Homo sapiens: one gene and its partners. The protein of the gene in region 2 interacts with the protein of the main gene of each other region in a biochemical or structural test. Each region holds a gene or a part of one and is shown on either strand. Other genes may lie near its edges.

Region 1 (3,653 bases), on a different chromosome or scaffold from region 2:
CTTTCAAGTCTTATTATTTAAGAAATACATTTGATAAGGCAATAGCTACCATAGTGATTCCTCTGATGGGTCTGGGAAAAATCTATTGAAAACCTTCTGGAAAGGATTCACGATTCTATATGCCATTAAGAACAGTCATGGGGAGAGGTAAAAATATCAACATTAACAGGAGTTTGGAAGAAGTTGATTCCAACCCTCATGCATGACTGAAATGTTCAAGACTTCTGTGGAGGAAGTAACTACAGATGTGGTAGAAACAGCAAGAGGACTAGAATTAGACATGGATCCTGAAGATGTGACTAAATTGCTCCAATCTCATAATAAAACTTGAACAGATGAGGAGCTGCTTCTTATGATGAGAAAGTGGTTACTTGGCCGGGCGTGGTGGCTCACGCCTGTAATCCCAGCACTTTGGGAGGCCAAGGTGGGAGGATGGCTTGAGCCCAGGAGTTCAAGACCAGCATGGGCAACATGGTGAGACCCTGTCTCAAAATAACTGATTAGTTTATTAATTAATTTTTTTAAAAAATAAGTTTCTTTCTTTTTTGTTTTTAAGAGCTAAGGTCTCACTATGTTGCCCAGGCTGGCCTTGAACTCCTGGGCCCAAGCAATCCTCCCATCTCGGCCTCCGAAGTAGCTAGGACCACAGGTGCATGCCACCACACCCAGCAGAAAGCGGTTTCTTGAGATGGAATCTACTATTGGTAAAGATGCTGTGAACATTGTTGAAATGACAACAAGGGACTTAGAATATAACATAATCTTAATTTATAAAACAGTAGCACAGTTTGAAAGGACTGACTCCAATTTTGAAATAAGTTCCTCTGTGGGTTAAATACTATCAAACATCATCGCATACTACAGAAAAATCTTTGGGTAAGGGAGGGTCAATAAATGCAGCAAACTTCATTGTTTAAGAAATTGCCACAGCTACTCCAACCTTGAGCAGCCGCCAGATGAGTCAGCAGCCATCAATACTGAGGCAAGACCATAGCTGGGTGCAGTGGTTCACACCCCTAATCCCAACTACTCAGGAGGCTAAGGCAGGAGGACTGCTTGAGGCCAAGAATTCAAGGCCAGCTTGAGGGCAACATAATGAGATTCCATCCCTTAAAAAAAATAAAAAAATAAAAAATAAAAAATGAGCTGGGCATGGTGGCATGTGCCTGTAATCCTAGCTACTTGGGAGACTGATGCAGGAGGAACGCATGCACCCAGGAGTTCGATGCTGCAGTGAGCTATGATAGCACCACTGCACTCCAGCCTGGGCAACAGTACCAGACCCCATCTCCCTTAAACAAAAATTATTATTGAGGCAAGACCTTATACCAGCAAAAAGATTATGACTCACTGAGGGCTCAGATGATCCTTAACATTTTTTAGCAATAACGTATTTTTAAATTAAGGTCTGTACATTTTTAAAAGACATGACGCTACTGCAAAGTTAACAGACTACAGTACAGTGCAAACATAACTTTTATATGCATTGGGAAACAAAAACTTTGTGTGACTCGCTTTGAGGTGGTCTGGAACTGAACGTGAACCCATAGTATCTCCAAAGTATGCCTGTAATACTTTAGCCAATTTAAAAATATCCCCAAACTAGTAACAGTGATAGAGAGGATTTGGAGAGCATGAGCAAAAGAGCTTACCTAAAGTGGGAAAAACCCCACAAAAAAGTGCCAGTTATTCCACAAGGTCTAAATTGATTTTAGTTGATCATCTTTCTTCCCTTCTTTTGGAGACAGGGGTCTTGTTCTGTCACCTAGGCTGGAGTGCAGTGGCATAATCACAGCTCACTGTAGCCTCTACCTCCTGGGCTCAAGAGATCCTCTCACCTCAGTCTCCTGAGTAGCTGGGACTACAGGCACGTGCCACCACACCCAGCTAACTTTTGTGTTTTTAGAAGACAGGATCTTGCCATGTTGCCCAGGCTAATCTCAAGTTCCTGGGCTCAAGGCCTTGGCCTCCCAAAGTGCTGGGATTACAGGCATAAGCCACTGTACCGAGCCTTTTTCACTTTTAGTAAGGGAATTCCTAAGCACCCGCAGCCTTATTCACTTTGGCACTTCAACAAGTTGCTGGTTTCAAGTAATCTAAAGGAAAATGGTAATTTGTCAAGCCTGGGATGCACTGTAGTAGAAACACTAATGTAAATAAAACTTACTAACCAATGAAACTACAGAGGAAGAAGAGAACAAAATATTTTCTGACAAGAGAAGTTCTAGAAATTCAATTTTGCAAGTAAATTTATATTTAAGGGAATCACACACAATTAAAAATGCAAATTTTAAAAAAGATATAACAGTTGACCTTGAGGTAGGAGAATCACTTGAATTCACTTGAATCACTCCAACTCGGGAGGTGGAGGTTGCAGTGAGCCGAGATCGCGCCACTACACTCCCACCTGGGCAACAGAACAAGACCCCGTCTCAAAAAAAAGTAAAAAGCAAAGGAGGCCAGGCACAGTGGCTCACGCCTGTAATTCCAACACTTTGGGAGGCCAGGGTAGGTGATCACCTGAAGTCAGGAGTTTGAGATCAGCCTGGACAACATGGTGAAACCCCGTCTCTACTAAAAATATAAAAATTAGCCAGGTGTGGTGGCACGCACCTGTAATCCCAGCTACTCGGGAGCCTGAGGCAGGAGAATTGCTTGAACCCAGGAGGCGGAAGTTGCAGTGAGCCAAGATCATGCCACTGTACTCCAGTCTGGGTGACAGAGCGAGATTCCATCTCAAAAAAAGAAAAAAAAATAAAAGAGAGAGAAAAAAGAAAAAGCAGAGGAAAAGACAAATTTGCCACGGTTTTAAAAATCAATTTATGTAAAAAGCACACTATAAGTGACATCTGAAGGACCTATAACAAGCTGAGAAATAAAAGTCTGCCGCACAACAAAGGATACTTTCTCTTTTTTTTTTTTTTTTTTTTTTTGAGATGGAGTTTTGCTCTTGTCGCCCAGGCTGGAGTGCAATGGCACGATCTCGGCTCACTGCAACCTCCACCTCCCAGGTTCAAGCAATTCTCCTGCCTCAGCCTCCCAAGTAGCTGGGATTACAGGCATGCACCATGACGCCCGGCTAATTTTTTGTATTTTTAGTAGAGAAGGGGTTTCTCCATGTTGATCAGGCTGGTCTCGAACTCCCGACCTTGGGTGATCCACACGCCTCAGCCTCCCAAAGTGCTGGGATTACAGGCTTGAGTCACCAGACCTGGCTAGGATACATTCTTAATAAAGAGTTCTTAAGATCAAGAAAAAGATCAACAATCTAATATTAAAAATGGGCAAAAAATTCAAAATTACAACAAGGTATTTTATAGATTACCAGATTTGGCAAGATTTTTCAAGTAATATTACCTAGTTCTGGTGGCTTCACAGGAGATACAAGAACACTCCCATTTCCACTGCTTTGCCTAGAGCAGTCCTCTTCCAAGTCTTTGTTCAAATGTCACCTTTTCAGTGTGGCCTCCATCACCCTATTTAAAACTGTAACCTTATCTCCATTTCTCAACCCCCACTTATCTTTCTCTTTTTTCTCCACCTATCACCTAATATACTATTTAATTTACTTATTTATGTCTATTGTTTATTCTGTCTTTCCTCCCACTATAATAATATAGTAGCCAACGGGACAGGAATGTTTTTCTTTCACT
Region 2 (3,653 bases):
AAAGTGCTGGGATTACAGGCGTGAGCCACTGCACCCAGCCAAAATAATTTTCTAGATAATATTTAAATTACTCCAAGTATGATCTTCAGAGGAAAAGATTATATGATGTGGAAACTCCTTTTCTAAACTATTGTAGAATTTGAATAATACTCATTTTCAGAATTCTCTGCAACAGAACAACATCTCTTTAGACTGTAGTTTGTTAGGTTTTTGCTCTGAGGAGACAGAACAGTTGCTGCTTTACCATTTGTCTTTTACGTGCTTAAAATAAAATTATAAAGTCTTTCTTCAGCCTTCTTATACCCAGTTTCTTTAATCTTTCCTATGGTTCCTGTTTCTCTACTTTTTCCCTGTGGTTTCTTGTGAAAATATAAATCCTCCATGCTGCTTTGTTTAAATAGTACTATGTAAACTCTAAAGTGTTATGCAAATGATAAGTTATTTTATTATTACAAAGATGGTAGACCCTTGAACTGCACGTTTATGAAAGTAGTTCAGTGCTTGCTTTGTTGTTGTTTTGGTTTTTTTGATTCCCAAGTTCTGCCTTAGGATCTCCAATGCTTGCTTTTAATGGTTCTTGGACAATCGATGCTGTTACTGAAAAATTTGGAGTTCATATCTTTACACTCCATGGTCCATATCTCATCACTTTCCTAATTCTTATAACCATTTTATTTAAATTCAGTTCTGATGAACATACACCAGTGGAGGATGAAGAGCCAAAGAAAAGCACTACTTCAGCTTCTACTTCAGAAGGTATTTTTAAAAAAAGGGTATTTTTAAAATACAAGCTATTTTATTGAGAGATTTAAAAAAATCAGTTTGTAAATAGTTGAACATTAGACTTTGCTTTTACTCAAATTGCCCATCGTCTGTTTCTTTTGATGTTCAGAAATAGTTTTTTAGAATATAATTTTTTAATTTGTACTTTCTTAGAAGAAAAAAAGAAGAAGTCTAGCCGTTCAAAAGAAAGGTCCAAGAAAAGGAGAAAGAAAAAATCATCGAAAAGAAAACATAAGAAGTATTCTGAAGATAGCGACAGTGACTCTGATTCTGAAACAGACTCCAGTGGTAAGAACGCCAACAGCATTCTGCAAGCCTTGCTTCAAAACTAGTTTTACTTCTTAAAACTTATTTTAGAAGAAGGTTCCTGAAAACAATAATAATACTGAAGAGTTTTTGAACACTTGCTAACCTTGTGCCAGGTACCCCAATAAGTGCTTTATATTTATTATTGCCATTTAATCCATACAATAACTGTAGGGTACATCTTATAGATGAGGAAATGGAGACAGAGCAGGTTATAAGTACTATCCCTAAGGTCACACAGTTTGGATTCAAACCTAAGCAATCTGACTCCGGATTGGGATTGGTTGTGCAAAGTGTACAAGGCACATGGCACCAGACCAAGTCAGGGGGTTGGGCTGTACCAAAGTAAGCCTTACAGGGCTGCATCGGCCCAGTGGAAGGGCTCTTTTGTTTAATTCTCATGCCCAATGAGCACCTCTACAGTTTTCAAAAAGGTATGCCATAAAGTGCCTACTTCATGCTGGCTGCCTATTTGTGGAAGGCACCCTATCTGGGGTAGTGCATCACAAAGAGTCTCCTTTTTGTACTCTCTCCTGGCTGATGATTGACCAGAAGGTGCCTCCTCTGAGGTTAACACATTACACAAAGATTCACCTTCCTCTGATATCGCCGAAGTTTCCTGGCCCTCCCTGTCACTTCTCTTCCTCAGTGCTCGAAGACAGAACTTTCAAATATTTCTGTATGCAACACTTAAAAAGAGGCATTTTTATACTTAACTACAACACTATCTCATACAATAAAATTAGTAATAATACCCTATACACCAAATACCTACTTAAAATCCTTCAATAGCACTCCATAGCCTTCAGGGTAAAGTTCAGACCCTGACTCATTTCTCTCTAATCACATATACCCTGTTACACTCTCTTGCAACATCCTCTGTAATCTGAAAACTACTTTCTGTCTCCTCAGTATTCCATGTTCTTTCTCTTGTTACTTGGTAGAGAGGCCCTCTGCCTACAATGCCAGTCTCTCCCTCCATCCAGCTTGGTTTACTCATTGCACCAATGGGCATGCATTACTTTTGTAATCAAAGAACTACTTTAAGAGTCACCTTTCCTGATCAACCATTCCTCAGCCACCCTCCTCAAATCAGTCTGATTTTGAGACTCCTCTGTGTGTCCAGGTTCCCCAAGCTTCCCTCTATCATTCCAGATTGTATTGATCTCTTTACCTATCTGTCTCCTCCATTAGACTGAGCTCCAGGAAAGGATTCTCTCTCCCCTCTCCAACACACACATAGTTTTCTTTCCCTTTTTATCACAAAAATATTTAAATATTCAGAAAAGCGAAGAGAATAGTATAATTAATACCATATACTTAATCACCTAGATTTGGCAGTTGTTGGTATTTTTACATATTTGCTTCAAATATGGGTTTTTCACTGAGATAGTCAAAGTTAATTACAAATATCATCACACTTCCACCCTAAATATTTCTGTATGCATCCCGTAAAAAGAGGCATTTTCCTAATTAGCCACCACACTATCTCACACAATAAAATTAATAATAATACCCTATATCATCAAAACCTAGTGACTTTAATTTCTATGTTCATAGTACCTCCCTACAGTTCGTGACAAATAGCAATAAATGTTTCAATGAGGTAATTTCTTTGTAACAATAAATGGGACAGCAATAGGATAGTTACCTACTCAAAAGTACTACGGTTTTAGAGTTAAAAAATTTTTTTCTTAATTGTAATGTGCTTTAATTTGCAGATGAAGATAACAAAAGGAGAGCAAAGAAAGCCAAGAAAAAGGAAAAGAAGAAGAAACACAGATCGTCAGTTTTTTAAGTTTTATTATGGAAAATTTCTTTTCTTTTTTTTTTTTTTTTTTTTTTTTTGAGACAGAGTCTCACTCTGTCAGGCAACAGAGTGCAGTGGTTCGATGTCAGCTAACTACAACCTCCGCCTCCCAGGTTCAAGCGATTCTCATGTCCCAACCTCCCGAGTAGCTGGGATTATAGGCACCCACCACCATGCCTGGCTAATTTTTGTGTTTTTAGTAGAGATGGGGCTTCACCATGTTGGCCAGGCTGGTTTCGAACTCCTGACCTCAAGTGATCCTCCCACCTTGGCCTCCCAAAGTGCTGGGATTACAGGAGTGAGCCACTGCACCCGGCCAGAAAATTTCAAATGCATATAAAATTACATAAAATAGTATAATGATCCTTCCTGCACCTGTCATGCAGTCTAAATAATTATCAACTCATGGGCAGTATCTGCCATCCATCATTTATTTTGGACCCAATCTCAGATATCATTCCATCCATAAGCAATTCAGTACCTTTCTCTAAAAGATAGGCATTCTTTTTGTTTTGTTTTGTTTTTTTTGAGATGAAGTCTCGCTCTGTCGCCCAGGCTGGAGTGCAGTGGCGCGATCTCGGCTCACTGCAAGCTCCGCCTCCCGGGTTCACAAAGATAGGCATTCTTTAAAACAAAACAAAACAAAAAACTGGCCAGGCACAGTGGCACATATCTGTAATCTCAGCACTTTGGGAGGCCAGGCAGGAGGATCGCTTGAGCCCAGGAGTTCAATACCAGCCTGGGCAACATAGCG
Region 3 (3,653 bases), on a different chromosome or scaffold from region 2:
AATTTCAGATAGGGCTAAGGGATAGGAAGAAAATGAAGATGGGACATGTTAAGTAATAATAATAGATGACATTTGAACACTGTGCCAGTCACTCTGTCGATTGTTTTACATATACCTTGTGACAACCCTAAGAGGTAGGCACCGTTATTACGGACATTTTACAGGTGAAACAGGGACACAGGAAAAGTAAGTAACATGCCCAGCTGTTGAATCAAGGCAGCCCGGGACCAGAGTCCACTCTCTGAGAAATGGCATTTGGGCAGGATCGAGAATGAGGAGGAGATCCAGTGTGGCAGAGGCCCTGGGGAGGAATGGGCTGGAAGTATTCGAGAAACCCAAAAGTAAGAGTGGCCTGAGTGGCCCAGAGAGGTTGATGGGAGGCAGGAGTCAGAGCGTGTCTACCCTCGTAGGCCATTGGAGGCTTACATGTGGAAGGGACAGGTTCTGATTCCTGTTTAAAAAGAGGGCTGCTGTCCGGGCGCGGTGGCTCACGCCTGTAATCCCAGCACTTTGGGAGGCCGAGGCGGGCGGATCACGAGGTCAGGAGATCAAGACCATCCTGGCTAACACCCCGTCTCTACTAAAAATACAAAAACAAAATTAGCCCGGCATGGTGGCGGGCGCCTGTAGTCTCAGCTACTCGGGAGGCTGAGGCGAGAGAATGGCGTGAACCTGGAAGGCGGAGCTTGCAGTGAGCCGGGATTGTGCCACTGCACTCCAGCTTGGGCGACAGAGCGAGACTCCATCTCAAAAAAAAAAAAAAAAAAAAAAAAAAATGCCGGGCGCGGTGGCTCACGCCTGTAATCCCAGCACTTTGGGAGGCCGAGGCGGGCGGATCACGAGGTCAGGAGATCGAGACCATCCTGGCTAACACGGTGAAACCCCGTCCCTACTAAAAATATAAAAAATTAGCTGGGCGTGTGGGCGCCTGTAGTCCCAGCTACTCGGGAGGCTGAGGCAGGAGAATGGCGTGAACCCGGGAGGCGGAGCTTGCAGTGAGCCGAGATTGCGCCACTGCACTCCAGCCTGGGCGACAGAGCCAGACTCCGTCTCAAAAAAAAAAAAAGGTTGCTATGTGGAGAATAGATTGTGGGGATGGGGGTAGTAGTGGAAACAGAAGTGGCCTGCAGTAGTGCATGGGAAACCGGGTGACGTTGAGTGTGTGAGGAGTGGCACCTGAGAAGTGGTAAAAGAATCTCCAGGAGACTAGTATTTTCAGGGTACCCCGAATTTTACAGACAGCTCTGACAGGTTAAGCCCACAATAGCTTCGTTTGGATCAGAATTCAGGTCTCTTGAAGCACGGTTTTTGCTTTTTGATTAATTTTCCAGAGGAGGAAAAGGAGTAATAGGTATAATTTTAAACTATTAATATGATGACTGGCAAACTTGAATTATGTGACTGTGGGTCTGGCTTGGTATAATATGATTTACTTTTGTCATTATCTACTTTTGTATATACAAGCAGGCTTTTAATTAATTTTAGTTCATTTCAAATCTGTGAGCTTTTATGAATTGAGCCAGTTCCTAGAGGCTACTTTTATGGTACACTGGAAATTGTAGTTGTCAGGAATAAGATTAAGATTATTTAGTGGGTCAAAATTTTAATCCTGTTAGATTGTCCTGTGAGTTTAGTTTGCTTATTATTAATTGTGCTGCTTTGTGAGTAACAGGCAGAACGGAAGGACTGTAGTGCTGTTTAGTCACAAATCTTAGGAATTAGCTACATCACATAGCTTGGGATAAATTTTTGCCTTATAGTATGTTTATATGGAGGTACAATTTTTAAAATATCTCTTTCATTTATTTTTTTCATAACTTTTATTGGGATATAGTTCACATACCATAAAATTTACCTTTTAAAGTAGGCCATTTACAGATTTTTAGTCTATTCATTAAATTGTGCAGCCGTTATCTAATTCTATAACATTTTCACTTCCCCAGAAAGAAACTCCATATTTATTTCCCAGTTATTCTCCATTCCCCTTCCCCCTGCGTTGGCAACAACTAATTTACATTCTAAGTCTCTATGAATCTGCTTATTCTGAACATTTCATGTAAATGGAATATACAGTATGTGGCTTTGTCTGGTTTCCTTAGAACAATGTTTTCAAGGTTCATCCATGTTATGGCACGTATTAGTACTTAATTCCTTTATATTGTTGAATAGTTGTGTCAATATGCCACATTTTATCCATTTATCCATTGTTCCTTAAAATTTTTCTATTTCTGGCCAGGCGTGGTGGCTCATGCCTGTAATCCCAGCACTTTGGGAGGATGAGGTGGGCGGATCACGAGGTCAATAGTTCGAGACCAGCCTGGCCAATAGGGTGAAACCCCGTCTCTACTAAAAATACAAAAATTGCCTGGCATGGTAGTGTGCTCCTGCAGTTCCAGCTACTCGGGAGGCTGAGGCAGAAGAATTGCTTGAACCTGGGAGACGGAGGTTGTGGTGAGCCGAGATCATGCCGCTGCACTCCAGCCTGGGTGACAGAGCGACACTCCGTCTCAATTAAAAAAAAAAAAAAATTCTGTTTTGTTTTTTGTTCTTGTAAAATTTTTATTAAAACATTTAATTTTGAGGCCGGGTGCGGTGGCTCATGCCTATAATCCCAGCACTTTGGGAGGCTGAGGTGGGCAGATCACGAGGTCAGGAGATCGAGACCATCCTGGCTACGGTGAAACCCCGTCTCTACTAAAAAAAAAAATACAAAAAATTAGCCGGGCATGGTGGCGGGCACCTATAGTCCCAGCTAGTTGGGAGGCTGAGGCGGGAGAATGGCGTGAACCCAGGAGGCGGAGCTTGCAGTGAACCGAGATTGTGCCACTGCACTCCAGCCTGGGCGATAGAGCGAGACTCTGTCTCCAAAAAAAAAAAAAAAAAAAAAAAAAAAATTTTTACTTTTGAAATAATTTCAGACTCACAAGACCTTGCAAAAGTGGTACAGAGTTCTTTGTGTACTCTTTATTCAACTTCCCTGACGTTGATATCTTAACCATAGAACATTGTTGAAACCAATAAATTGACATTGAGACAATGTTATTAATTCAAGAAAGATTTTACTTGGATTTTATCAGTTTTACATGCACTCTCTGTGTAGTTCTAACAAATTGTGTCACTTGTGTAGATTAGAATAATCACCACAGTCAGGATGCCAAACTGTTTCATTACCACAAAGAACAGTCACTCTCTCTTCAAATCTAAGCTTGGGAAACACTGATCTGTTCTCTATCACTTAATGTTGCCACTTTGAGAATGTTATATAAATGGAATTATACAGTATGTCACCTTTTGTGATTCGCCTTTTTTCATGCAGCGTAATGCCCTTGAGATTCATCCATGTTGTTGCCTGTGTGAGCAGAGCATTCCTTTTTTTTTTTTTTTTTTTTTTTTTTGAGATGGAGTTTTGCTCTTGTTGCCCAGGCTGGAGTGCAGTGGCACGATCTTGGCTCACCGTAACCTCCGCTTCCTGGGTTTAAGCGATTCTCCTGACTTAGCCTCCTGAGTAGCTGGGATTACAGGCATGTGCCACCATGCCAGGCTAATTTTGTATTTTAAGTAGAGACGGGGTTTCTCCACTTTGGTCAGGCTGGTCTCGAGCTCCTGACCTCAGGTGATCCACCCGCCTTGGCATCCCAAAGTGCTGGGATTAT

The links.
Region 1: of the proteins of NKAP (region 2) and SRPK1, one has a biochemical effect on the other in vitro, tested with the Homo sapiens proteins (one large-scale study listed by BioGRID and IntAct).
Region 3: of the proteins of NKAP (region 2) and SRPK2, one has a biochemical effect on the other in vitro, tested with the Homo sapiens proteins (one large-scale study listed by BioGRID).

The regions. Positions count from the first base shown.
Region 1 is NC_000006.12:35,911,060-35,914,712, forward strand, and holds part of SRPK1 (SRSF protein kinase 1), read right to left. Parts: intron 1-3,653. UniProt on the Homo sapiens protein: Serine/arginine-rich protein-specific kinase which specifically phosphorylates its substrates at serine residues located in regions rich in arginine/serine dipeptides, known as RS domains and is involved in the phosphorylation of SR splicing factors and the regulation of splicing.
Region 2 is NC_000023.11:119,933,715-119,937,367, reverse strand, and holds part of NKAP (NF-kappa-B-activating protein), read left to right. Parts: intron 1-685; coding exon 686-756; intron 757-936; coding exon 937-1,071; intron 1,072-2,810; coding exon 2,811-2,874; intron 2,875-3,653. UniProt on the Homo sapiens protein: Acts as a transcriptional repressor. Plays a role as a transcriptional corepressor of the Notch-mediated signaling required for T-cell development. Also involved in the TNF and IL-1 induced NF-kappa-B activation.
Region 3 is NC_000007.14:105,382,295-105,385,947, reverse strand, and holds part of SRPK2 (SRSF protein kinase 2), read left to right. Parts: intron 1-3,653. UniProt on the Homo sapiens protein: Serine/arginine-rich protein-specific kinase which specifically phosphorylates its substrates at serine residues located in regions rich in arginine/serine dipeptides, known as RS domains and is involved in the phosphorylation of SR splicing factors and the regulation of splicing.